7 separate regions of the Homo sapiens genome follow, and all the other regions are linked to region 2. Evidence: fine-mapped expression QTL. A gene starts in region 2. Each other region holds a variant in brackets. All regions are shown on one strand. Distances are between the middles of the regions.

Region 1 (4,000 bases), 180 kb before region 2:
CCACACCACCCCTCTCATTCGGTGTCACCACCCCCTGGCACTGTATTCCAGCATTAGAGAGGTGAGGAACTAACACCGTAGTGATCTTGCTTTTGCTGTGTGATAGGAATCTACCTGAAACCACTTGGAAAAAACATTTCATGAGAGCTTGTCACCTTACCTGCTACTAGCTGAATCTCAAAGTGTGACCAGCCAGCCCAGCAGTCTACATACTGGCCTCTGTGAGCCTTGTACCCACTGTGCTGCTTCGTCTCTTGACGCCACCAAGGCAGCCATACTCTCCCGTCTTTATACTTGTCCAGTCACAGCTCCCTACAAACCTCAGGAACATAAGTCAAACTTTTTAAGTAATTTTCTTTAAGCTCTTCTTCCTTAAGGTGGGGGTAAACACACTCTACCACCCTAACATTGCCTAGGATGGGACAGCCACAGTACTCCACTAACTTCCTCCAAAAACCACTACTCTCCCCCAACCTAACAACTTCAACTCACACCTGTCTATAGCCTCAAATGGGTGCTTGCCTAAACCTGCAAAATTGGTGGAGCTTCTTTGCATGGTGGATTAGCACTTTATTTTAAGAATATGAGCATCACTTGATATCTATAACTCGTTGTGTTATTCTCAGCTTTTGAAGTCTCAGCTTAAATGAAGACAGAGTTTTAAGAAAACTTCTTGGCTAGTTTATCATCAGCCTTATATAATATAATAAAAAGTTTCCTTCTAGTCATAGAACAGTCTTCCAGAAATAAATTCTGGTTTGAAACCATGTTTACTCATTTTGTGACATTATTAGTGATGCTTTATCAGCCTTTACAGATTGCAAGTCTAGGTTAATGTCCTAACTGGCCACCACTTAATCTGGCTCTGCTGCCAACCATGAAAAGGTTATATTCTAGGAGCCATGTTTTGTTTTAGGCCACCAAGCAGGCAGATTTAATTTAGAGAATTTTTAATGTCTGATGTTCTCTTCTCAGTTGACTGTGAAGGCAAGAGTTAACTTCTGAGCACATTAATCTCAATCACAAAGTTGTTGAATTTATAACCCTCTTGCTTGCCTTGATTAAATAACTGCAAAAGCTGGAAATTGCATTGAGCTTTTTAAAAGCTTAAAGCCCTAGGAGCTTTCATGCACCTTATTTGTTTCTAGATAAATGTGGGTGCAGCATAGCTGAAGTGTGGCTGGCTCTGTGAAAAAATATGTGCAACAGCTGCTTTGATATCAACACCTCTAGTGCCCCCTTTTGTTGCCTTCTCTCCCATCAGGAGCACCTAATGCCCACATATTTTCACTAAGACCTGCCCTCTCAGGGCTGAGCCCCGGCTCTCAAACACATTCTCCCCACTGCCTGTGAAACTCACGTATTGTGCCTTTCAATTGTTCTGATAAGTACCTGTTCTGATCCTACAAATAGGGTGCTAGCTTTCCCTGCTTCGTTTTCTCTCTTCTCCCCGCAAACTAAGAAATTTTTGTTCTCCACATAAATTCTTTTGGGTTTTCACAATGAAAATACAGGAAAGAGGAGAAGGAATGGAACATATCATTAATTTACTCTAAAGTGGTAATATCCCCTAATTACAATGTATTATTCATTACCAGTATATTCAAAGAAATTGGACCTAATGGTATCAACAAGTGGTACACTTGTTACAATTGATGAACTTACATTGACACATCATTATCACCCAAAATCCATAGTTCACATTACAGTTCACTCTTGGTGTTGCACATTCTAAGGACAGTCTTTGGACAAATGAACAATGACATATATCTAACATCATAGTATACTTTTTTGACCTCTGAACTTTTTATTGGCCTCCTGCTCCCCAAAGGGTACCCTGCTTCTGCTGGCTTAATGTCTCAGAACTTTGGTGTCGTTGGTCTCAGACACCACTTTGCTATCCACTATCCAGCGGGTAGTGGTATTTGGATGGTTTCCATGGATTTGCTGCTGTCCAGGGCATCACCAAGATTGAAGTCCTCACCATTTTCCAGCAGGCGGCGGTAGGTAGTGATCTCAGCCTCCAGCTTGACCTTGACATTCAGCAGGGCCTGGTACTCCTGGCCCTGGCACTGTCCCTCTGCCTGGGTCTGTGCCAGCTCTAACTCCAGGTGCAGCAAAATCCCATTGACCTTCTCCATCTGCAGGGTGTAGCGGGCCTTCACCTCCCTCAGGCTGTTCTCCAAGCTGGCCTTCAGATTTCTTATGGAGTCCAGGTCAATCTCCAAGGACTGGACTGTACATCTCAGCTCCATGAGCGTCATCTCAGTAGCTCCAACCTTGGC[G/A]GACTGCATGGTGACCACTGTGGTGTTCTCCTCAATCTGCTGAGACCGATACTTGTCCAGGTCTTCTCAGTTCTTCCGAGCCAGGTCGTCATATTGGGGCCAGATGTCTGCCACGATCTTGGCGAGGTCCTGAGATTTGGGAGCATCTACCTCCATGGTCAACCCAGAGCTGGCAGTCTGGGCTTGTAGGCCTTTTACTTCTTCTTCGTGGTTCTTCTTCATGAAGAGCAGCTCCTCCTTCAGAGCCTCGATCTCTGTTTCCAGCTGCAGCCGAGTGACATTGGTGTCATCAATGACCTTGTGGAGCCCACGGATGTCGCTTTCCGCAGACTGGCGCATGGCCAGCTGTGTCTCATACTTGACTCTAAAGTCAGCAGCAGCAAGGCAGTCATTGTTGACCTGCAGAATGATGCGGGCATTGTCCACAGTATTTGCAAAGATCTGAGCCCTCAGGTCCTCGATGGTCTTGAAGTAATGGCTCCAGTCTCTGACCTAGGGTCCCTTCTTCTCCAGGTGCTCCCAGATTTTGCTCTCCAGCTTCCAGTTCTCGGTCTCCAGGCTCCTCACTCGTCCAGGTAGGTCGTTCAGGCTTTGCAGGGTCTCCTCGTTCTAGATGCCTTCCATTCCTGCCAGGCTCCCAGGCCCCATGCCGCCATGTCCTGGAAGCCGGCAGAGCGGGACACGCAGATCTGGGAACCGGAGCCCCCGGCTCCTGCATAGATGCTGGCTGCACTGCTGACTGGCAGGGAACCGTAGCTGGGCTCCAGGACAGAGCCCTGGGACTGGTAATTGGTGGAGAAGGTGGAGCGAGTGGTGAAGCTCATGCTGTCCGGGGAGGAGAGCGAGAGGACAAGACTCGGGCTTTGCCGACAACATAATCATATATTTTTATCACTGTAAAAATTCTCTGTGACCTGCCTATTCATTCTCCCACCCCCAACCCCAACTTTCGGCAACAAGTGATCTTTTTACTGGTTCCATAATTGTGCCTTTTCCAGAATGTCATAGAGTTGGAATCGTATAGTAATGTAGCCTTTTCAGATTGACGTCTTTCACTTAATAATATGCATTTAAGTTTTCTTTATGTGTTTTTTGCGGCATGGTAGCTTATTTCTTTCTAGTGCCAAATAATATTCCACTGTGTGGATTTACCACAGTTTATGTATTCATTTGCCTCTGAAGGAGGTCTTGATTGCGTCCAGGTTTTGACAATTATGAATAAAGTTGCTAGAAACATCTATGTGCAGGTTTTTGTGTGGACATAAGTTTTCAACTCCTTGTAGACACCAAGGAGCGTGATTGTTGGTTCATATGGTAAATGTTTAATTTTGTAAGAAACTACCAAATATGTTGATAATGGAGGAGGCTATGCATGTGAGAGGCAGGGAGTATGTGGGAAATCTCTGTATATTCTGCTCGGTTTTGCTAGGAAACTAAAACAACTGCTCTACAAACATAAAGTCTGTAAAATAAATAAATAAATGAACATATATATGTATATAAACATATATATATATATATAAACACACACACACACACTATAGGAGAGGCTAATTTTACCCCTACACTCTTAGAGTTTTTTTGGCTAGGCCTGAGAATTAAATTGACATAGACAAATTAGTAGGAGAAAAGCATACAAATTTATTTAATGTTTTACATGATACTTAAGCAAATGAAGGCCCAAAGAAGTGGCAAATTCTAAGTGCTTTCATATT
Region 2 (4,000 bases):
GCTCTATTTTTTCTATCCTTTGATGACATCATGATAAAAATACCATTTGAGTGCTGTATCTTTAATGTGTGTCTAATGCTTGGTAGCTTGCCCTTTTAACAAAGACAGTTGTCTTTAGACTTAGAGCCTTTAGTGGACAACAGTTTCTAGCCACAATTTAAAAACATTGTTTTGCATTCATTTTTCTTACAGTTACTTTCAACTTATAATAGGTGATGCTAGTTTTCCATTTATAGTACTTTTATAAAGTCTCCTTCTTAAAGAAATTAAAGAAAATATACATTTATTTAAAGAAAAAAGGACAGTGAGTAGTATACACAGATACAGTATGAAAAAGGTTGAAATTTGGGAATCCCTGCCTTCTAGAACAGGTTAATGTATCCAGTTGGGCCAATCTGGAACACCCTAAAGGGAAACTAGGGAAATGTAATTAAAATATGAATTTTGTTTTTTTTCAAAGAGGTACTTGGATGGTTAAAGTCAGAACTCCTATAGCAACACGTGTGAAGGCAGAGTAATATCAAGCAAGGAATGGTTTTTTGGTAAGAAACGTACTACAGGAGTGGGCTGGGATTCAGATTGGATTTCACAAAATGTCTGGCAAATTCTCATAAACCTAAATTTCTACAGTAAATTTTGGGTAATTTATTTCCATCAACAGCAAAAAAAAATTAGTCTCAGTTCACTGGCAAGAGAGTTCGCTGTTGTTAAGGGGACAGCACAAGAAGTGGGGCTCTTAATTCGCGGGGGAGGGGTGGCGATGAATATATCCTGGGCATCAGGCGACGGGTCGGGGGTGGGGAATAAGAGAAGACAGAGGGACTGTAATCAGATAAGCGGACACGTTTCAAGATGAATAAAGGGAATATGTGCGGAACGAAGAAACAGTTTTGTATCACTGACATAATTAACTAAACTGTTACCCAGGTTTAAATTAAGCAAGGTGTCCGGGGACTGCAGCTGTTGTATTTATTTTGGTTGCATGTGATGGGAGCTGTTACTTCCCGGCTTGACAAACAGCCTCAAGATGCAAGCTGGGAGGCTGTGGTCAGCCCAAGGCTATACAGAGGAAAGGCAGGCCTCCTCTGAACCCCGCCCCAGCAGAATAAGAAGCGAGGGGCAAGGGTCAGCGCGGAGAGGGAGGGTGGAAAGCGCCATATAGTGCCCAGGGTCAGGGTGGGTAAACAAGCCTTTCTTCGTGTCATTTTTTTTTTTTGTCTCACCGATATCTGCATTGTAACTGAACTTTATGCCAGGAGACCTTAACCTTGTTAATCAGGTTTCCAGTCGAATCAGGATCGATTTTAATGCCTCCATTTTGGTTGTTGCTGTTGGAATTTCCGAAAAAGCCTAACTGCGCCAGTCTTTCTGTTAGTTCTCCACACCCCCTTCCCTTTCCGAGACCCCGCCCTTTTCTCTCAGCCCAAACCACAAAAGGCCGCGCAGTTTTAGCTCCTACACGGTGCTCCGCCCCCTCCCCAAACGTCGCAGTACTGCAGGGAAAGGAGGTGGGCTCGGCTGGGGCGGGGGACTGAGTCGGCTTCGTCTTTCCGCTCTTCAGCCAATTGGTGAACTCCCCCTGAGGGAGATGGGGGAGCAGGCTGTAGAGAAGGTCCAAGTATTTTTCCCTTTTTCTGCCACGTCCCAACCATTGACGTGAGCCCACTCCTCAGGTTCTGATTGGGCGTATGCATTGTCCCCCAGCAGAGACCCTGTAAGCTGACTGGTCATCTCTGCTATGGGGGAGGGGCTTGCGTACTCTCCTCCTTCGCCTCCACCGCGGCGCAAGGGGCGGGACTCACCGCCACCGCCTCTGCTTCCGCCGCCGCCACCGCCGCCGCCGCCGCCACAGCCGCCAGCCGCTTCGCGTTCGGCGGGGGAGGAGTTGGAGGCGGAGAAGAAGGCGGTGGTGGCGGGTGGAGGTTCGAGCGCTGTTCTCGCTCCGGAGCCGCTGCACATTTCGGTGAGGGTTTTTTTTTTTTTTTTTCAGTCTGGCTTGTTCCGCTGTCGGGAGTGTGGGGGTCGGGGCGAGGAAATTGCTGCGTTCAGCTCCTCAGTTTCTCTGTCTCTAGCTTCGGAAGGAGCGGGGCTTGTCCCTGGCCTGCTGCGCCGGCCATGGTGGGTGGGGTTGATGGCTGTGGGAGGCCTTCTTCGCCTCCTGGGCCCTGTCCAGCCCGGACCCGGGCCGCGCTCCTATCCGGGACGGTCGCGCCCGCCGCCCCCCGACAGATGACATTGGTTGGTATCGGGGTCTTCGCTGCCGCTCTTTACTGCTGCCTCTTCTGCTGTCCTTGGTGACTTGGCCAAGGAGCCCGCTGGCTTTCCCCTACACTCGCCACTGTACAAGAGTTTGCCCCCCAACCAACACCTCACACCCACCTTCTGCGGTTTCCCGTCACCCCGCGTAGAGCGGAACCATCTTACGCCACAGGCCTGCAGCACCCCTCCCCCGAGGAGCCTTCTGTTGCCGTCGTTTTGCTGGGCGTCTGCATTTTCCCCGATTGTCAGTGAGGCTCGGCACGCAGACACCCCGCTCGAGCCGCAGCAGTCGCTCTACTCCCGGGATCAGCACCTTTCCGCCAGGGCTGCTCTCAGTTAGCGATGTCAGGCCAGAGCTCCTCTTGCAGATGCACCTTTAATTTGGCCTCCCTCAGATGACTGGTAATCATTTTGCGCACATTCAAAATGGTGAGGTTAAAGACGCTCAGACCAAGTTGAAGCAAAGGGGAGGTGGTAAATAGTCGTTTTGCAGGGAGGAGAGTAATCTGAGAGTTCCTTCTCCGGACATTAAAAAAAAAAAAATTTACATCCGCATAGGCGCTTCTTTTGAGTCTGCTGGTTCTGTGAAGTTTAAAATTTTCATTGCAGGCTTAATGTATTCTGTTTTATCATGAAATATTTGGTCACATTTCTTTAAAATGGCAGTCACCTTTGCTGAAGGCTACGGATCATTTGAAGTGTATGTGAATAAACCTGAGGATAACAGTAATAAACGTTTAAACTGTATTTTTCAGTGTTGTAATTGTCTTTTGGGGTTCATGTCATTTTTATATGAGATGACCACTTAATTTTAAAAATTCATTGCAGACATGCAAGTTTGATGTACACTTCAACAATATAAATAACGGACTGTTAGGTAAAATTTAAATATTTCTTTTCATCCCCCAGTCCCACTCCAGTGTAAAGTTGACAGTTTAGTGTTCATTTTTCAAAATCTTGCAAATGCACTTCTAGACACATACAAGTACACGTAAAGTTTTTTTTTTTGAGGGAGGCTATACCATATACCAAACATGTTTGCATACCGCTTGCTTATTGACTTAATTACATATGTTGGACATTTTTACTTTTTACATATAGGTCTCCCTAATACTTTTTAAAAGGCTAACTGGTATCTCGTGAGTTTGAATGGGCTATAATTTATTCTATTCCCTTTTTGAAAGACATTTAATTGCAGTTTCTTTTTGCTATTACAAATGATGATTTATAATGAAAATAACTTTCTAATTTATTGATCGATGTTTAATTACAAATTTTAATTCATCCTTGATTTTAAAAAATTAAACAGTATGGAAGAATGTAAGGTAAAAATTACCGCTTCCACTTCTAGTCCTGCTTGCATCTTGATTGTCAGCCACTGTTAACAATTCAGTAAACTTCCTCTATGTGTGATTATTTCTGGAGCATGGGTTCCTAGAAGTGAAGTTGCTCAGTTAAAAGATTATGCATATTTTAAATTTTGGTAACCCTTTCTCCCTCTTTATTACTCTTGTTGAAAATATTCTTGAATGTTTCTTATGCATTTCTTCTTCTAGGTAAACTTTAGACTGAACTAAAAATCCTTAGCTATTTTGAATAAGGTTATATTGAAATTTTAGATTAATTTGGAGACAACTGATCTTTATAGTATTGAGTCTCTCTCCTCAGAAATGTGGCCTCTCCATTTTATTCACATCTTGTTTTATACTGTTAGGGAAATTTTTATAGTTTTTCTTTTTTT
Region 3 (4,000 bases), 500 kb before region 2:
GCAAAATCCATTACAAGACTTTCACCCTAGTCCAAATGAGAGATGATGGTGACTTAATAGAATGATAGAATAGGATATTAATGACTTAATAGAATGATCAAGTGATAGGATAGTAGTCATGAACTTGGTGGAGAATAGTTGGATATATAATTTGAAGAATGGACAGGATTTGCTGATGGGTAGGATTTAGGATATGAAGGAAGAAGATTCAAAGTTAACTCCTGGAACTTTGGCCTGACTAACTGAATAGATGTACTGAACATGCTAAGTTTGAGAAACTTATTAGATAGACACTGGCAATGCCACAGAGGCACCTTGATGGGAGTTTGTAATTCAAAGGACAAGTTGAGGCTGGAGATAATATTTACAGCCATGAAACTGGATGGAGTCACCTAACAATACAGAGAAGACAAAAATCTGATAAATAAGCCCCCCCAAACTCCAAAACAGTGATCAGAAAGAAGATAAGGAACCCATAGAGAAGCCTGAAAAGTAGTTGAGGAGACAGAATGAGTATGAGAAAATTGTCACAGCCTGGAGGTCAAGTGAAGAGTGTTTCAAGAAGTAAAAAATTGTGTCAAATGATGCAGAGAGTTGACGAAGAATGAGTGCTGTAAGGTGATCACTAGATTCAGCAATGTGGAAGTCACTGGTGACTTTACCAGAACAGGTTCAAATGAGTGATGAGAACAAAGCCTGATGAAATGAGTTAAAAACAGACTGGAAGATGAGCAAGCAGAAGGACAGTATAGACAACTCCATTGAGTGTTTTGTCATGGAGGGGAGCAGTGCAAGTGGGCAGTAGGTGGAGAAAGACATGGGACTGGGAATTAAAGTTCTTTTGTGTTTGTTCTTTTAACATGAGAAATATTAAGAGTTTTTGTATACCCATGGGAATGATCCAGTTGATGGGGAATATTAATGATACAGAACACAAGATGAACTTCTGGAGTTAAGTAAGTAAAAGGAGATGAGCTGCAGTTACTAAGTGAATAGAGAAATTGGCTTTTGATAGGACAAATTGTTCTAATCTAAATGCTTTTCTTTCAGAAGAAAATACATTAATTGCTCCTTTTTTTCCTCCCTTAATAAATACAACCTTGTGGGTTAACTCTAAAAGAGAGTTACTACCTTTTCACACACCAGAAAGCTAAAATAACACAGTCAAGTGATTTGTCCAAAGTCACATACAGCCAGGCCTCATTCCCTGAGTTTCTGATGCCTTATCAATGGTTCTTTCTGCCTTTCTACACAACATGTGTGTGAGAGTCAGGCAATGGAAATGTCACTCTCAAGGGCCGATTCAAAGTCACAGGTTTAGACCCTCGTGGAAATTAAGTAAGGCAAACTTTTGACAAATTCATTCAAAAAAACTGTTTTCAACTTCAATCTGCACCTGTCTTTTCCCCAATCAGCCTAGATCAGAGATTCAGAGCTGACAGATGGTCTTTATGACTTATCAAGGCAGCACTCCTATCCCTTCTATTCTGCCAGTCCTTCCAGACGGATTTTTTTCTCAAATGGCAGTCTTATCAAGGATATAGTTTATTCTGCTAGCAAATAGCCAAGGGACAGGCTAGAAACAGATAGGCAGCAGAGGGAAGATGGTCTGGAATTATCAATTTGCTGGGCCTCATGCTCAAACGCATAATTAACAGTTGATAATTGTTC[T/C]GGGTTGGGCAGAGTCCTATAATGGTTAGATCAAGGCATAGTTTACTGTACTTAAATCTGGGCATTTACAATTATTCTCCCCTTAATATAAATTAGGAAGTTGGAAGCTCTCTCTCTCAAACAGATTTCTCTCTCTCTCTTTTTTTTCTTTTTTAACAACTCTACTACCACCTAACTTGCCCTTTAAAAATATGCTCAGATTCTTCCAAGGATAAGAGTGAGAGACAAGAGGATATGAATCCAAAAGGTGGTTTCTGCTGTTTTGCCACATCTGCTCAAAATTCCACAGCTGGCACTGCCTCCTAGAGATTACCAGAATGACTAATGATTCACACAGCTCCCAGTCTTAAATGTGCTCGGGAAAATGTTCAGGGATTTGACCACAGCTTTTCAACATCAAGAATGAGAGGTGTGAGAGCTCCCAGACATCAGCTAGTTCATCTCTTGCCAGATCTGGATTTTTCCCTTCTGGATAAGATTCTAGCAGATGCTTTAGCTAGTCTTGTTTTAAATATCTTAAAGGATGGCACTCCCTCCGCTTTCCAAGGGTAAGGCTTTTTCACAGTCCAGTGGATCTTCTCACCAGTCTGTGTTTTCCAGAAACTTGCCTGAAATTTATCTTTTGTTAATTTCTTAACATAACTCATGTTTATTCACTTTGGCAACTCACCTGCAAGCAGCATCTCTCCCTCATTGGCAATTAAGCAACTAAGTCTACAAGCGAGAGATCATCAGCCAATGTCTTCCCTCTATTTCTTTTTCTTGCTGGATAAATCCAGCATGCCAAGAAGTTCTGTGCACTGAACACCCAGTGGTTTTCTGTTCATTTTACTCTGTCTCTTCAATTATTACCTCATCACTCTCAGCCACCGCGTGGACTGTTCCTATCTACCAAGCTTGGCAGGGGACTCAAGTATCAACACAATGCAGTCATTCTCACTGATTCCTGGCCCTGACCCTACAAGGATTCACAACAAATTCCATCCTGTCACAGATTGCAGCATGGGGATGGTTAACAGAAGATACACACTGCATCAAGGTCAATGTAGAAGACTCCAACCCATCACCAAGTGGCTCCATGTTTTCTGCTGTGATGGTATCTTGTCCACGCTCATGCCAGCCTCTCTCTACGCATCAAACCCACTGCTACTTTTCTTCTAGCCCATTCTTCTCACTCTAGATGCTACTTTTGGGCCCCTTAGCTCTTCACTTCCAAATTTTCTCTCAACCTTCTTCTCTTTGTACCTCACAGCTCTCATTTGAAACTTGCTGCATATTTTCCCAGCTGAATATGTTAATCACATTCATCTTTTCCTCCTCTGCTGTAGACAACCCTGTGGGCTAAATAAGTCATATTATTTCTTTCACTTTTTCACATACTGGAAAATTAAGACAGCATAGTCAAGTGACTTGTCTCAAGTCACAGCTAATATCAGGTTCGGAGCCAGCACTCATACCCTGAGCCCTATCCATAGTTCCTCCTGATTTTCTACACAACACATGCATCAGTGACACACAATGGACACAGGCTTTGCTATTGACTCCCCTATTATTCCAGGAAGGTGCTACATACCTAAATATACTTATTTTACATGCTGTAAAAAATCAACTTTCTAACTTTCCTTTTTACAAGAATTGTGTCTTGGATGTTATTTTAAATGATTAAAAGCAAAAGACAAGTATAGTCAACAGTAATTTATTGTACTTTTAAAAATAACTAAAAGAGTATAATTGGTATGTTTGTAACCCAAAGCAATGATAAATGCTTGAGGTGATGGATACTCCATTTACCCTGAGGTGATTATTACATATTGTATGCCTATATCAAAATAACTCAAGTGCCTCATAAATAATACATCTACTATGTACCCATAAAATTTAAAAATACTTATTTTTAAAAAAACAAAGGAACAGTTTCTTGCAAAGTTAAATCACTTTTTTCCCTTTGCATTTAGACCAAATATATTTTGCTATGCAGAAATGCCTAAGTAAATTATGTGATAACTGAAAAGTAGTTTAATAGAATTTACATTTGATTTTTTAAAAATCCATTAAGCTAAGGATTTATAAAGACATTTTTTCTTCTGCTCAATACTTGCCTGAACAAAACACCCACCCAGCCAAAATCAAACAAAAAGCTTCTTTTGTCTTCATGAACTGATGTCACTTGAGTTGTACTACTTTAGAATCCACAGGACTAGAGTGAAAAAACAAGCAACTGGAATGTGAACAACATCAGGGAGATGTGACTCACATACCTGCTTACTGGCTATTAGACCTCTTTAAATTTCCCACACAATATGAACTACGGTCTGCTTCAATTTCCACA
Region 4 (4,000 bases), 36 kb after region 2:
CTGCAAAGGATTATAGTTGCCAGGGTGCCTTTTTAATATGGTGCCAGCTAAAGGTTGGAATTTAATAGCTGTACACTCCTATTTAGTTTCATTTTGCCCTTGTTCATCTCCCTGATGTTTCATTGTCATCCTCCCTAGTTCTTGTATTTGTAGATTGGAGAGATGGTGATGCTAGTCTTCTCAGGTTTTGGATGGAAAGTATAAGAGCTGCTGCTTAATTTGGGCCTGTGAACTTTGAGTTTTTTTGTAAAGCTTAAAAAGTTGATATACTTGAAAAGTTTTTTTTTGTCATGCTTATAATAGCCAAAGTAGAACTCATCAAGAATATAACTAAAGTTCATTGTGGCATTTTTATTTTTTTATTTTTTATTTATTTATTTCGAGACAGAGTTTCTCTCTGTTGCCCAGGCTGGAGTGCAGTGGCGTGATCTCGGCTCGCTGCAACCTCTGCCTCCTAGGTTCAAGTGATTCTTCTGCCTCAGCCTTCTGAATAACTGGGACCACAGGCATGCCATCATGCCCAGCTAATTTTTGTATTTTTAGTAGAGATGGGGTTTCACCATGTTGGTCATGCTGGTCTTGAACCTGTGACCTCAAGTGATCCACCCGCCTCAGCCTCCCAGAGTGTCAAGATTACAGGCGTGAGCCACTGCACCCGGCCAGCATTTTTAGATATAGGAATTTTGGCTACTTTTTAAAAATATGAATTATATATTCTTTTTAAGTAGAAAAGTATTTTAATGAATTCATGATTGCCTTCTTCCCTGAAAAATTCTAAATGATCATTTAATCACATCTGAAATGTTACACTCTGTGGGATAAACATTGCAGCCAGTAGCATTGCTCTGAGCTGTTTGACAGGTACTGAGCACCACCTTATTAAATTAGGATTCCAAGGGGAATTTTAATAGGCAGCATATAATTACCAGACTTAGAATTAGACCAAAGAGCTAAGGTTAATACCCTGCTCTTTTGAAATATACCCTGAGAAGTTTAGTAACTGTTTGAGGACAAGATCTTGAGTTTAAAAAAAACCTTTCAGCAATACTAGCATATCTTAACCTTGGGCCTAACTGCTCTGAAGAGAGGCATGCCATCTACTGTCTGTTCCTTACTTATAGCATTTGAGGTTTCTTGCAGAATTTTTGTGGCCTTAGGACTTAACTTTGCTTAAAATTTAAAAACCTTACTTAAGGTAAAATGTTGGGACAACTTACTTTGTTGATGATGTTGGGAAATAAAATGATTGTTAGCCATTTAGTTGACTTCAATATGATATATTAAAGGATTTGTTGAAATCTTAAGTGCCAGACTTTGTTCCAGGTGCCCTGTTAATACAAATCATAATGGTCCCTGTTCCCACAAGGTTCACTAGCTTTATGAAGAAGACAAAATATACGTATTTATTATTGTGAGGCTGAATTAAGCGCCTTTCCTGTTCCGTGTAGGTTACCTGAGAGCCACAAAGAAAGAGTTTGTCTGAGAACTTGGTACTACCCCCAACAAATAAAACATCTATATGCAGCCAAGGCACAGATCTTAAAGCATATGTGCTGACATTTTAGCAAACCTTTTTATCTTGTTTTCAAGTTCATAGAAGTTTGGAAGGAGCACATTAGGTATAAATGTGTTTGTTCTGCAGATATGCTAGGGAGTTCATGGGATTACAATAACCTGATACTAAGGAAAAAGACCAGAAAGTGACAAAAAGCAGGCACAATGCAAAAATCATAGCCATCTTAATGAAATTAAGCAGACTTATATATTTGGACATAATCCATTCATATCACTGTATTACATTACAGTTCAGTGTTAATAGTGGTAAAAAGTTCCAGAATGTTTAGATTATGTCAGATAACAAAATATTTAAAATTTCACTTTTTCCTAGGCTCCTGTAGTTGAGTTTCTTGTGGCTGTGATAAATGCCAGGAAGAACAAAGTAACAAGTACCTTGGGGAATTATGGAATGAGAGATTACTTTTGGTTGGTTTTATGTTTCCATAGCTTATTTCTGCCTAGGATTTGTACATAAATTTTGTCTATAATTTCATTCTGTAT[A/G]TCAAGTTTTTTTAGTTCACAATTGAATGTGTAGAGTGTAACATTTGAGTAAATTATAGTTGTCTGCTTTTTAAATACAACTCTTAGGTGCTAAAAGGGATCAGTACCAGTGAAGGATCATATGAAGATCAAAGTAGTACTTAATTTAGTTTTTACTTTGAGAACTTTTAAATGTGTCATTCACCCGCTTTTAAAATCTAGAACAAATGGATCTTCACTGTTCCATGATCATTTTTGTGTCCTATTTGTTCTGTTGCTTACTCCTTAAAAAGTGATTTTTAAATCTTTTCCCTTTTTTCCTTCCATGTACTCCTGTCACTCCTAATGGTTAGCTTCGTTTCTTATTTTCCTGTAGAAGTTAAAAATATGTAAATGTGAATTTTCTTATTTTCCTCTTCTCCATATTAGGGGATAGTAGTATTTATTTGTATTTTTAATTTCCTCTTCAATGAAGAGAGGTAGCCCCTCTCATTCTGTGCCTCTAGTTATTTCTGACACTTCATCTAATTGTCCTTACTCACAGGTTGCTTCCCTCTGTCTCTCAACCTTGAGTTTTTCTCAATCTTGAAGAAAACCTTTACTTTTTCTTGCTCTGTTATTTGCCTGTTTGTGTTTTCTTTTCTACTGCTGAATTTTAAGAAAAAGTTTTCCATACCCACTGTCTCTATTCTGTCACTATCCACTCTTCTTACTGCCTTGAAATCTAATTCCTAATATTATTTCTGTATTCTTTTTTATTGAGACAGTCTCGCTTTGTCACCTAGGCTGGAGTGCAGCGGTGCAATCTCAGCTCACTGCAACCTCCACCTCCTGGGTTCAAGCAATTCTCCTGCCTCAGCCTCCTGAGTAGCTGGGACTACAGGTGTGCACCACCATGCCTGGCTAATTTTTTTTTCTTTCTTTCTTTTTTTTTTTTTTTTTTTTTGAGACGGAGTGTTGCTCTAGTTGCCAAGGCTGGAGTGCAATGGTACCATCTTGGCTCACCACAACCTCCACCTCCCAGGTTCAAGCGATTCTCCTGCCTCAGCCTCCTGAGTAGCTGGGATTACAGGCATGCGCCACCACACCCAGCTAATTTTGTATTTTTAGTAGAGACCAGTTTTCTCCATGTTGCTTAGGCTGGTCTCGAGCTCCCGACCTCAGGTGATTCACCTGCCTCAACCTCCCAAAGTGCTGGGATTACAGGCATGAGCCACTGCACCCGGCCCTATATTCTTTAATGTCAGTGGTGACCTCCTGATTTCCACATCCATTTGTCTTTTCTCAGTACCCATTTTCTTTGATTTCTCTGCACTATTATGAAAAATAATTGCAATGTTAAAGAAGCAGCTGTGTTGTAGTGAGCTGCACTGAGTAAACAAGAAGTCTAGTTCATGAAATAATTGAAAAACAAAAGAAGCGATTTTATACAGGAAGGTCTTGAAAGAAATAGAGTCTGATCTGTGTTTGGAAGTGGGGAAAAGGTGAAGTGATTATAAAGATATTCCTGATGGCAAGAATGCCCACTTTGAGGACACTGTTTGAAATAGAGCATTCTTGAGTTGGATGCAAGAAAGTACTGGGATCAGATAGCAGTAAATTATAAGTGTTATTCAAAGACATTTAACTTTTTATTCTATAGGTCACTATTTCCAAAGTGGGTAAAATATATTAAGTGGTACACAATGTTTTTAATTTAATCATTATGTATTTATGTTAATGGAAATTAAGAAAATATAGGTAGCACATCAAATTCAGGACTTAATGGCTATTGCTTATCCTAACTAAATGTATTTGAGTTTAAAAAAATGTTAAAAAAAGACTCGCTAACAGTTATTGATGGCTCATTATTTATCAGGCATTGTGAAAATGTTTTATATATATTAACTCACTTACCCTTTACATGAACCCAGTGAACTATTAAATACTGTTGTTGTATTCACCTGATATGTGAGGCTAAAAA
Region 5 (4,000 bases), 29 kb before region 2:
TCCATCTCAGCAGATTCTTGAGTAAAGGGAATCTTGGGTATCATATTTTGAGTACCTTGATCCCTGTAGCAAGACTATATCCATAAAGATATGGACCTATCAGCCTTGGTAGTAACAAACATTTGATTTATCTAATGCCTGTTGTTAAGATTTCTATGTCTACCACATAACCTTCTAATCACATGTACCTTAAAGGCGAGAATAAGTTCTTCACTCTGATTATGAGTCTTCTTATTCCCATGATATTTTTCATTTTAAGTTGATAAATTCACGTTCCAGTGTTTCCTGTGGTCTCCCGGGTAGTTCAGGTTTAATCAGTGACACAGGACTCCTAGAAATTGACAATTGTTAGCAGACTCTGCCTAAGCCCACTTATAAATGCTTGTCTGTTTGGGGATTTATATACTGAGATCAGAAACTAAGCCACCATGGCTACAGTATTAGAAACCAGAAAATATCTGTAAACAAAGTGAGAATCTACAGTTTACTAAGAATAAAGTAATCAGGAAATGGCTGATATCACAAGCTGGATTTCACCATCCACCACTATACAGAGGACCCAATCATCTAAAACCTGCAAATGAACATCTTCTCAGAGCTGGGGACAGAGGTAAATGAGGCCCAAATGGCCTCTGATGTAAGATATTCTTCCCCACACACTTTCAATTTTATGATGAACAAGTAGTGTGTGTCAGAGAAAGGGACTCTCTTAATGGTTTTTCTTGATGATTACCCTAGAAATTAATAGCAGCCCAAACATGTCACTGCGGTGGCTGATATGATAGATATTGATCATGCAAGTAGGAAAGAGGGAGTAGAGTCAGGGGAACTTTCAATCTAATTACATAGCATATATCTTGGGCCTGACCCAGTAAAGAACTTGTATGTCCTAATTCACATATAAATTCTTCTACTAACATAGCTGTTTCCACTATGCCTACCACACTGACTATTAACCTCTTTTCAATCTTCCTAACCTGCAAGGGGACCATGTTTCAATTTCTGGATAAACTATGGACTTTAGTTAATAATGATGTGTCAATATTGGCTCATTAACTCTAAGCTATGTACCATACTAATGTAATAGATGCATGAATAGAAATTTTCTCAAGTGTAGGTTTTACCACAGCCAGATAACAAGTTACTAGCTAACAATAACTGAGTGATTAGTATGTGTCAAATGGTTATGACTGATAGTTTTATTTAATTTTTTTGAGACAGAGTCTCACTCTGTCGCCCAGGCTGGAGCACATGGCTCACTGCAGCCTCAGACTCCTGGCCCCAAGTGATCCTCCCACCTCAGACTCCCAGAGTGGTAGGATTACAGGCATGAGCCACTCTGCCCGGCACAACTGATAGTTTTAACTAGAACCAGAGGGATCAAGTGGGGTGAGAGAGCACCTTTTCAACAAAAGAGGGTGCTGTTTCCAAAATAGAAAAGGTTTTGCAAAGACAAAATAAAGGTTTTAATTTGCATTTCTCTAATTATGAGTGAAACTGAAGATCTTTTCAGATATTTAAGGGCAATTTTTATATCTTCTTTGTGAGTTGTCTATTTCTGTCTTTTTCCCATTTTTCTAATGATTAGTTATCCTCTTCCCCCTGTTTTTTATTTTATTTAATTTTCAAAATATAATTAGAAATAGATGTTTTAGAACAATTTTAGGTTTATGGAAACCTTGAGAAGATACTACAGAGAGTTACCATATACCCTACACCCAGTTTTCCCTATTATTAACATTTTACATTAGTATGGCACATAGTTTACAATTAAGGAGCCAGTATTGATACATTATTATTAATATATTAATGTTATAAAGTCCATAGTTTATCTGAATTTCCTTAGTTTTTACCTAATTATTTTTCTGTTCTAGGATCACATCTGGGATACAATATAGCATTTTAGAGGTGTATCTACTTAAGCCCCTCTTGGCTGTGTAGTTTCTCAGACTTTGCTTCTTTTTGATGATCTTGACAGTTTGGAGGAACTGGTCAGGTATTTTGTAGGATGCTGCACGATTAGAATTTGTCTGTTGTTTTTCTTATTCTAAGACTGGGGTTATTGGTTGTGTGGGGCAAGACCTCACAGGTAGAGAGCCACTCTCATCACATCATAGGGTACA[T/A]TCTACCAACAAGTGATTTATGAATATCGATGTTAACCTCAATAACCTGGCTTAGGTAGTGTTTGTCAGTAGAGAACTACTGTAAAATTACTTCTTCCCATTTCTTTTATACTGTACTCTTTGAAATGAAGTCTCTATGCACAGCCCACGCTTTCAGGGTGGGGAATTATGTTCCATCTCCTTGAGGGTGAAGTAGCTAAATAAATTATTTGAAATTCTTCTGTACAGAAGATTTGCTCCTTCTCATCCATTTATTACTTTATTCAATCATTTATTTGTATCAGTATAGACTCATGAATATGTATTTTGTCCTAGGCTATAATCCAAATCCAATACCCTTTTATTTATTTTGTTGCTCAAACTGATTCAGCTTCAGCCAGTAAGAACTCTCTCAAGTTGGCTCCTATGCACCTTTGACACACCCTCATCAATATGGGTTTCAGGTTTTGCTTGGGGGGTGGGGCGTGTGTGTGTGTGCAGCATTTCCGTACTTTCTGGTATTATAAGATGCTCCCGGCTCATCTTGTATAGTACTTGCCCAAGTGGTAGAGTCAGCCGTTTCTCCAAGGAGCCCTGGTTTCTTTCGTTGGAGAATGGTATTAGAAACCACGATCTGGGTATTAAGTGTGCTTTTTGATACTGGTGTGTTTTCCCTTCTATTTTACAGAAAGAGTGATTTTTATATTTGAGAGATAAGCCCTTTATCTCTCCTATATGTTTTATCTAGTGTGTCAGTTATCTTTTAAGGTTATTTGTGATGTTTCTAATATGTAAACATTTTATATTCACCTAATAAAATATATCAATCTTTCCTGTTACTGCATTTTGACTCACAGAAAGCTTTTGTAAATACTGATGCTAAAAAGTGATTCACACATATTTTCTTCCAGTATTTGTATAGTTTCATTTCTTATGTATAAATCTATATGAGTTTTTAAATCAATTTTTCATTTTCTTCAAAAATAAAAAGCCAATTAGAATTATGATTGGGATGAAACTGAAGATATAGATCACCTGGGGAAGGTTGTCATCTTAACAATATTGGGTCTTACACTCTGTAAACATAATTAGAGTTCTCCATTTATTTAGGTCTTTTTAAGTTAGCTTTGCAATGTTCTATGGTTTTCAATGTACAAGGCTTGCATGGCTTTCATTAACTTTATTCCATAATATTTTAAATTCTATTGTAAATGGAGTTTTAAAATTTTTTGTTCATTGCTTATTGTTTGCTAGTATATAGAAATCCAATTTACAAATATTGATTTTGTATTCTGCAAATCTTAAATTCTTGTAATAATTCTAGTACCTTGTTTGTAAACTCCTAAGGGTTTTTTACATGTACAATCAAGTCATCTGCAAATGAGGACAGTTTAACTTTTTCCATTTCAATTTCTACAGTTTTTAACCCTGTTTTTCTTTTTGTATTATATCAGCTAGGCTGTTCAGTGCAATGTTAAAGTAGTAAGAATGGACATAACTTGGTTTGTTCCTAATTGTAGATACAAAGAATTGGGCTGTTTTCCACTGATAATGATGTTAACTGTAGGGTTTTTTATAAGTGACCTTAGTTAATGTGAGGAAAGCCTCTTCTATTCTCAATTTGTTGCAAGTTTTTAATCATAAAATAGTCTTGAATTTTAAAAAATGTTTTGGTGTCTGTTGAGATGATTTTGTGGCTTTTTCCTTTTATTTTAATAACACAGTGAATTACATTGATTGATTTTCAGATGTTTAACCAACCGTGCATTTTCCAAATAAACCTACTTGGTCATAATGCATTGTTCTTTTTATATGTTGTTAGATTTGATTTGATAATACTTTGCTGAGGATGTTTATTTCTGTTTACAAGATATTTTTCTCCATAGTTCTATTCTTTG
Region 6 (4,000 bases), 63 kb after region 2:
TAAAACTTTTGAGAAATTTGATGAGACTAAGAAGTCAACTCTAATTTTCATTTAGCAATCCACACAATTACATTTTGCGTTTGATTTTTAGGAGCAAGAGCATCTTTTAGGGCTGTCGTGGATGCTTTCTGGCTCTCATACCCTATTGTGAGGTTTAAGAGACCTGAGTTTGTAATTTTTTTCTGTAAGTGCACAAGGGCACTCTTAATAATCCATCTCACATCACGATTTTTACAGTTAGATCACTGTTGCCGTAAGATCAAGTATAGGAGCTATCTGGGCTTTCAAGACACATGCTTCAGTTGGATCTTCATCACTGTCAACCACAGTGATACCTTGATTAATTGTGATGCCACTACAGACTATGGATTAATAGCATCCCATTCTCATTGGCAAGGAGCTCAACACTGAGCTCAAGCTCAACAGGTGTAACCAAACCAACCCCCAAATCCTTTTCTTGCCAGTTCTGTGTCCCGGGACCACTCTTAATATGAATTCTGTACCAGTCTGAGTTCAGTCCCAAGAGAGAGAAATACAGTAATTTGAACAGGGAAAATTTACTGTAAATATTAACTGCAACAGAAGTTTAGAATACCAAGGGATTGGCTAGTAGGAAGTAAAGCAAACTCTAAAGAATATAGGATTAGCAGATTTAAGAAACAGCTTTAGGGCTGAGATGGAGCACTCTACTTCCCTCCTGTCTAAGGCTGAGAGCCAGACCTTATTGGGAAGGACACAGCCATGGCTTATGGAGGAGTATTTATGGTACTGTGCTGGCAGAACTTGCTGGAAATTTGCCTTCTGGAACATGGCAAAAATCTGCCCTCTGGGGCAAGAGAAACTTCACAGTGATGTGACCAAGCCCCTAGGTACTCTGCTGCAGAACCACCTAAGATGAGTACAAGGAGAAGCTGCTGGCAACCTTGTCCTGTAATTACCAGTTACTGGATAAGCAGCATGTGCTTCAAGAGCCAGGCACTGGAGAAGCCACCCACACTGGAGGAGTCTGATGCTGGAGAAGCCATCTGTGCACAGGGAAGCCTGGCACACTGCAGGGGCAAGCCCAAGGGAACCATGAAGCAAAGTCCTTTCCTTGTGTCTCTCCAGCACCTTCTGCTGACAAAACTTAAAATCATGTCAGCTAACAAAAGGAAAAATATTTAAAAGGCCCAAATCTGTTTTCAAAGGGCAGAAATGAAAGGTGTATTTGGAGCTGAGAAGCAATAATTCAATTACTGGAACAGTGTTTCTTTCTTTTTGCAGTGTTTCTCTGCATATCCAGAGTCAAATTTAGTGTTCAATAATATTAACTATGTTTATTAACTCTTTGTGAACCGTTTTGCTTTTTCCTTTTTTAGTCCTGATTTTGCTTTGGGCTTGGCCCAAGGCAAGTTGTAATCCCTATTATAAGTCATCTCAAATTCTTTTTGGGAATATCTATGGTAGGACCTTAGGCATGTATAAATATTATGTTTGCCATCCAGAAGAATAGAGTGTTAGCTAAGCTATCAGGCAGAATTCTTCTTCTATATGGGAAACCTGGCTTGTTCATTTTTTTTTATTATGGTAAAATAAACATAATATAAAATTTACTATTGCTACAGTTTTTTAAAGTGTACAGTTCAGTGTAATCAAGTGTATTCACATTGCTGTAAACAGTAACTCCCCATTTTCCCATCTTTCCAGCCCCTGGCAACCACCATTCTGTTTTCTGTCTCAATGAATTTGACTACTTTAGGTATCTCATGTAAGAATCATACAGTACTTATCTTTCTGTGACTGGCTTATTTCATTTAGCATAATGTCTTCAAGGTTCATCCATGTCGTGGCATGTGTTAGAATTTCCTTCCTTTTCAAGGCGGAGTAATATTTCACTGTATGTGTATATCACATTTTGCATATTCATCCATCCACCAATGAACAGTTGATTTGCTTCCACCTTTTGGCTCTTGTGAATAATGCTGCAGTGAACATGGGTGTACAGATACTTGTTTTAGTCCCTGTTTTCAGTTCTTTTTGGGTGTATACCCAGAACTAGAATTGCTGGATTATGTGATAATTCTGTTTTTAATTTTGAGGAATTGTTGGGCTGTTTTCTCTAGCAGCTGTAATATTCTGCACTCCAACCAGGAGGGGAGGCCCAGTTTTGATAGTTGTCAAATTTCCTTCAGGTTTTTCATCCCTAAAAAGAAGCCAAGGTCTTTCATAGCTCCATGATCTTATGATGCTGTAATTAGGATATAATACTAACAAGTAATAATTAAACGGTGTAATACCAATTCTTTGAATACAGTAGCAGTTCAGAAGGATACTCGTGCAGTCTAGGACCACTGACATAGGCCTCATGGAAGAGACAGGACTTA[T/C]GCAGTCCCAGAGGGAGTGATAGGACTTAAAGGATGGACAGAAAGCACCAGGCAGGGGAAGCAGCATGTGCACCAAGAGCAAGTAATTGTACAGGTTGCAGACAAAAAGACAAAAGTCTCAACTGCCATTCTAGTCTAATTAGAGCCAGAAAGGATGAGGATGACGCATCCCAGATGATCACATGATCTGATGTTCTTTCCATCCTTCTTAGAACAGTAATTTGACACAGATATTTGAACCTGTAAATGAAATTCACAACCCAGATAACCTAGTAATACTTGTGAGCTGGTAATGTGGGTGCGCCAAATCCATGCCAGTAGTAGATGTAGCCATTCAGGAGTGCATTATTTGCTTCCATACCTGGAGCTTCTAGTAGCCTCAGCCACATTTTATCTTTCATGAAGTGAACCTTTCCAAAATGTTTATTATTTTCTTTCATGTTATTGATCTCACATAGGAACCAATAGTTGGAAAAAGTAACCACTCCTTCAAAATATAAATACGGAGAAGTAGATGATTATTGAGACAAGGTAGTTTTTTTTTTTTTTTTTTTTTGAGACAGAGTCTCGCTCTGTCACCCAGGCTGGAGTGCATGGTGATCTCAGCTCACTGCAACCTCTGCCTCCCAGGATCAAGCGATTCTCCTGCCTCAGTCTCCCCAGTAGCTGGGATTATAGGCACACACTACCACGACCTGCTTTTTTTTTTTTTTGAGATGGAGTTTCGTTCTTGTTGCTCAGGCTGGAGTGCAATGGCTTGATCTCGGCTCATTACAACCTCTACCTCCTGGGTTCAAGCAATTCTCCTGCCTCAGCCTCCCAAGTAGCTGGGATTACAGGCATGTGCCACCACACCCTGCTAATTTTGTTTTTTTTTTTTTTTTTTTTTACTAGAGACGGGATTTCACCATGTTGGTCAGGCTGTCTTGAACTCCTGACCTCAAGTGACCCACCCCGCCTCGGCCTCCCAAAGTGCTGGGATTACAGGCATGAGCCATTGCGCCCGGCCGAGACAAGGTATATTTTTATTTCACATGTAGAAAGTTGGGCTCTGCGTGTATATTTAATGTTTTGGTTTGTTGGTGATGGTGGTAGTTCCTTCTGAAGAGGCAAAAGGAGCAAAGGACTAAAGCAAAAGAAACTAACAAAAAGAGAATAATGGTGATATAATTTTGGAGATACCCTAAAAATAGTTTTCTGTTACTGTTTTAAAGTATTTCTAACAAAGAACTGTACCTTTTGTTTTTCAGACTGCTCTGGCCCATTTAGAGTCTCTTGCAGTGGATGTTGAGGTGGCCAATCCACCAGCTAGTAAGGAAAGCATTGATGGTCTTCCAGAGACCCTTGTTCTTGAAGATCACACTGGTAAGGGCAAAGTTGATCTCAAATGTTGAAGAACACATTGTACATTTAAGTATATTATCAATATACCTAGATAATTAAATACTTGATTATTAGAAACTTTCACTAGATTTTTTTTATAGAAACCAGATGCTCACAAACTTTCACCTAGTACAAGAATATTTTTAATTTTCAAGCGATAGGCTGAGACAAATGTTCCTCTGTCAGCTTTTTTACAAAGCAGTATTTATTAGATTCCAAATTGCCAAGTATTAGACAGAAATGCCTGCCAATTA
Region 7 (4,000 bases), 130 kb before region 2:
TGTCCTAAATGGTATTGCCTACCTTCAAGGGTTTTTATGGTTTTAGGTCTTATGTTTAAGTCTTTAATCCATCTTGAGTTAATTTTTGTATAAGGTGTAAGGAAGGGATCCAGTTTCAGCTTTCTGCATGTGGCTAGACAGTTTTCCCAAAATCATTTATTAAATAGAGAATCTTTACCCATTGCTTGTTTTCATTAGGTTTGTCAAACATCAGATGTTTGTAGATTTGTGGCGTTATTTCTGAGGCCTCGGTTCTGTTCCATTGGTCTATATATCTGTTTTGGTACCAGTACTATTCTGTTTTGGTTACTGTAGCCATGTAGTATAGTGTGAAGTCAGTTAGCGTGATGCCTCCAGCTTTGTTCTTTTTGCTTAGGGTTGTCTTGGCGATATGGGCTCTTTTTTGATTCCATATGAATTTAAAGTGGTTTTCCTAATTCTGTGAAGAAAGTCAATGGTAGCTTGATGGGGATAGCATTGAATCTATAAATTACTTTGGACAGTATGGCCATTTTCACAATATTGATTCTTCCTATCCATAAGCACAGAATATTTTTCCACTTGTTTGTGTCCTCTCTTATTTCCTTGAACAGTGGTTTCCAGTTCCCCTTGAAGAGGTTCTTCATATTCCTTGTAGGTTTTATTCCTAGGTATTGTGTTCTCTTTGTAGCAATTGTGAATGGGAGTTCACTCATGATTTGGCTGTCTATTATTGGTATATAGGAATGCTTGTGATTTTTGCACATTGATTTTGTATTGTGAGACTTTGCTGAAGTTGCTTATCAGCTTAAGGAGATTTTGGCCTGAGACGATGGGGTTTTCCAAATATACAATCATGTCATCTGCAAACAGAGACAATTTGACTTCCTCTCTTCCTATTTGAATACCATTTATTTCTTTCTCTTGCCTGATTGCCCTGGCCAGAACTTCCAATACTATGTTGAATAGGAGTGGTGAGAGAGGGCATCCTTGTCTTGTGGCAGTTTTCAAAAGGAATGCTTCCAGCTTTTGCCCATTCAGTATGATATTGGCTGTGGGTTTGTCATAAATAGCACTTATTATTTTGAGATACATTCCATCAATACCTAGCTTATTGAGAGTTTTTAGCATAAGGAGGTGTTGAATTTTATTGAAGGACTTTTCTGCGTCTATTGAGATAATCATGTGGTCTTTGTCATTTGTTCTGTTTCTGTGATGGATTATGTTGATTGATTTGCGTATGTTGAACCAGCCTTGCATCACAGGGATGAAGCCCACTTGATCATGGTGGGTGAGCTTTTTGATGTGCTGCTGGATTCAGTTTGCCAGTATTTTATTGAGGATTTTCGCATCGATGTTCATCAGGGATATTGGCCTGAAATTTTCTTTTCTTGTTGTGTCAGGTTTTGGTATCAGGATGATGCTGGCCTCATAAAATGAGTTAGGGAGGATTCCCTCTTTTTCTATTGTTTGGAATAGTTTCAGAAGGAATGGTACCAGCTCCTCTTTGTACCTCTGGTAGAATTCGGCTATGAATCCATCTGTTCCTGGGCTTTTTTTGGTTGGTAGGCTATTAATTTCAGAACTTGTTATTGGTCTATTCAGGGATTTGACTTCTTCCTGGTTTAGTCTTGGGAGGGTGTATGTGTCCAGGAATTTACCAGTTCTAGATTTTCTAGTTTATTTGCATAGAGGTGTTTATAGTATTCTCTGATGGTAGTTTGTATTTCTGTGGGATCAGTGGTGATATCCCATTTATCATTTTTTATTGTGACTATTTCATTCTTCTCTGTTTTCTTCTTTATTAGTCTGGCTAGTGGTCTATCTACTTT[G/A]TTAATCTTTTCATAAAACCAGCTCCTGGATTCATTGATTTTTTGAAGGGTTTGTCGTGTTTCTATCTCCTTCAGTTCTGCTCTGATCTTAGTTATTTCTTGTCTTCCGCTAGCTTTTAGATTTGTTTCCTCTTGCTTCTCTAGTTCTTTTAATTGTGATGGTAGGGTGTCGATTTTAGATCTTTCCTGCTTTCTCCTGTGGGCACTTACTGCTATAAATTTCCCTCTAAACACTGCTTTAGCTGTGACACAGAGATTCTGGTATGTTTTATCTTTGTTCTCATTGGTTTCAAAGAACTTATTTATTTCTGCCTTAGTTTCATTATTTACCCAGCAGTCATTCAGGAGCAGGTTGTTCAGTTTCCATGTAGTTGTGTGGTTTTGAGTGAGTTTCTTAATCCTGAGTTCTAATTTGATTGCACTGTGGTCTGAAAGACTGTTTGTTATGATTTTCATTCTTTTGCATTTGCTGAGGAGTGTTTTACTTCCAATTATGTGGTCAATTTTAGAATAAGTGCAATCTGGTGCTGAGAAGAATGTATATTCTGTTGATTTGGGGTGGAGAGCCCTGTAGATGTCTATTAGGTCCACTTGGTCCAGAGCTGAGTTCAAGTCCTAAATATCCTTGTTAATTTTCTGTCTCATTGATCTGTCTAACATTGACAGTGGGGTGTTAAAGTCTCCCACTATTATTGTGTGGGAGTCTAAGTCTCTTTGTAGGTCTCTAAGAACTTGCTTTATGAATCTGGGTGCTCCTGTATTGGGTGCATATATATTTAGGATAGTTACCTCTTCTTGTTGCATTGATCCCTTTACCATTATGTAATACCCTTCTTTGTCTTTTTTGATCTTTGTTGGCTTAAAGTCTGTTTTATCAGAGACTAGGATTGCAACCCTGGCTTTTTTTTTTTTTTTTTTTTTTTTTTTTTTTGCTTTCCGTTTGCATGGTAAATATCCCTCCATCCCTTATCCCTTAATTTTGAGCCTATGTGTGTCTTTGCACATGAGATGGCTCTCCTGAATACAGCACACTGATGGGTCTTGACTCTTTATCCAATTTGCCAGTCTGTTTCTTTTAATTGGGACATTTAGCTCATTTACATTTAAGGTAAATATTGTTGTGTGAATCTGATCCTGTCATTATGATGCTAGCTGGTTATTTTGCCCATTAGTTGATGCAGTTTCTTCATAGTGTTGATGATCTTTACAATTTGGTATGTTTTTGCAGTGGCTGGTACCGGTTTTTCCTTTCCATATTTAGTGCTTCTTTCAGGAGCTCTTGTAAGGCAGGCCTGGTGGTGACAAAATCTCTCAGCATTTGCTTGTCTGTAAAGGATTTTATTTCTCCTTCTCTTATGAAGCTTAGTTTGGCTGGATATGAAATTCCGGGTTGACAATTCTTTTCTTTAAGAATGTTGAATATTGGCCCCCACTCTCTTCTGGCTTGTAGGGTGTCTGCAGAGAGATCTGCTGTTAGTCTAATGAGCTTCCCTTTGTGGGTAACCAGATCTTTCTCTTTGGCTGCCCTTAACATTTTTTCCTTCATTTCAACCTTGGTGAATCTGATGATTATGTGTTTTGGGGTTGCTATTCTCAAGACGTATCTTTGCAATGTTCTCCATATTTCCTGAATTTGCATGTTGGTCTGTCTTTCTAGGTTGGGGAAGTTCTCCTGGATAATATCCTGAAGAGTGTTTCCAACTTGGTTTCATTCTTCCCGTCACTTTCAGGTACACCAATCAAATGTAGGTTTGGTCTTTTCACATATTCCCATACTTCTTGGAGGCTTTGTTCATTCCTTTTCATTCTTTTTTTCTCTAATCGTGTCTTCATGCTTTATTTCATTAAGTGGATCTTCAATCTCTGATATATTTTCTTCCACTTGATTGATTCAGCTATTGATACTTGTGTATGATTCACAAAGTTCTCATGTGTTTTTCAGCTCCATCAGGTCATTTATATTCTTCTCTAAACTGGTTATTCTAGTTAGATATTCCTCTAACCTTTTTTCCAGGTTCTTAGCTTCCTTGCATTGGGTTAGAACATGCTCCTTTAGCTCAGAGGAGTTTATTATTACCCACCTCCTGAAGTCTACTTCTTTCAATTCATCGAACTCATTCTCCATCCAGTTTTGTTCCCTTGCTGGCGAGGAGTTGTGGACCTTTGGAGGAGAAGAGGCGTTCTGGTTT

Evidence for each region.
Region 1: its variant is fine-mapped to the expression of PJA2 in whole blood (INTERVAL, PIP above 0.99).
Region 3: its variant is fine-mapped to the expression of PJA2 in whole blood (INTERVAL, PIP above 0.99).
Region 4: its variant is fine-mapped to the expression of PJA2 in whole blood (TOPMed, PIP above 0.99).
Region 5: its variant is fine-mapped to the expression of PJA2 in whole blood (INTERVAL, PIP above 0.99).
Region 6: its variant is fine-mapped to the expression of PJA2 in whole blood (INTERVAL, PIP above 0.99).
Region 7: its variant is fine-mapped to the expression of PJA2 in whole blood (INTERVAL, PIP 0.99).

The regions. Positions count from the first base shown.
Region 1 is chr5:109,587,448-109,591,447 of GRCh38, reverse strand. It overlaps the pseudogene KRT18P42. Among named protein-coding and RNA genes, the nearest start is that of MAN2A1, 100 kb to the left of the region's middle. The variant G/A (reference allele first, on the strand shown) is at 2,286.
Region 2 is chr5:109,407,805-109,411,804 of GRCh38, reverse strand. PJA2 (praja ring finger ubiquitin ligase 2) reads left to right here and starts at 1,831. Exons shown (of 10, transcript NM_014819.5): 1 at 1,831-1,963. RefSeq lists enhancers at 1,197-1,376, 2,487-2,606, 2,647-2,746 and a silencer at 1,887-1,966.
Region 3 is chr5:109,905,963-109,909,962 of GRCh38, reverse strand. It overlaps LOC105379119 (a long non-coding RNA gene), which reads right to left and starts at 2,460. Exons shown (of 3, transcript XR_948667.3): 1 at 2,342-2,460. The variant T/C (reference allele first, on the strand shown) is at 1,672.
Region 4 is chr5:109,371,889-109,375,888 of GRCh38, reverse strand. All of the region lies in intron 4 of PJA2 (praja ring finger ubiquitin ligase 2), which reads left to right. Among named protein-coding and RNA genes, the nearest start is that of PJA2, 36 kb to the left of the region's middle. The variant A/G (reference allele first, on the strand shown) is at 2,059.
Region 5 is chr5:109,436,389-109,440,388 of GRCh38, reverse strand. No RefSeq gene overlaps it. Among named protein-coding and RNA genes, the nearest start is that of PJA2, 28 kb to the right of the region's middle. The variant T/A (reference allele first, on the strand shown) is at 2,124.
Region 6 is chr5:109,344,433-109,348,432 of GRCh38, reverse strand. It overlaps PJA2 (praja ring finger ubiquitin ligase 2), which reads left to right. Exons shown (of 10, transcript NM_014819.5): 8 at 3,614-3,728. Among named protein-coding and RNA genes, the nearest start is that of PJA2, 64 kb to the left of the region's middle. The variant T/C (reference allele first, on the strand shown) is at 2,364.
Region 7 is chr5:109,539,061-109,543,060 of GRCh38, reverse strand. All of the region lies in intron 5 of LOC105379117 (a long non-coding RNA gene), which reads right to left. Among named protein-coding and RNA genes, the nearest start is that of PJA2, 130 kb to the right of the region's middle. The variant G/A (reference allele first, on the strand shown) is at 1,812.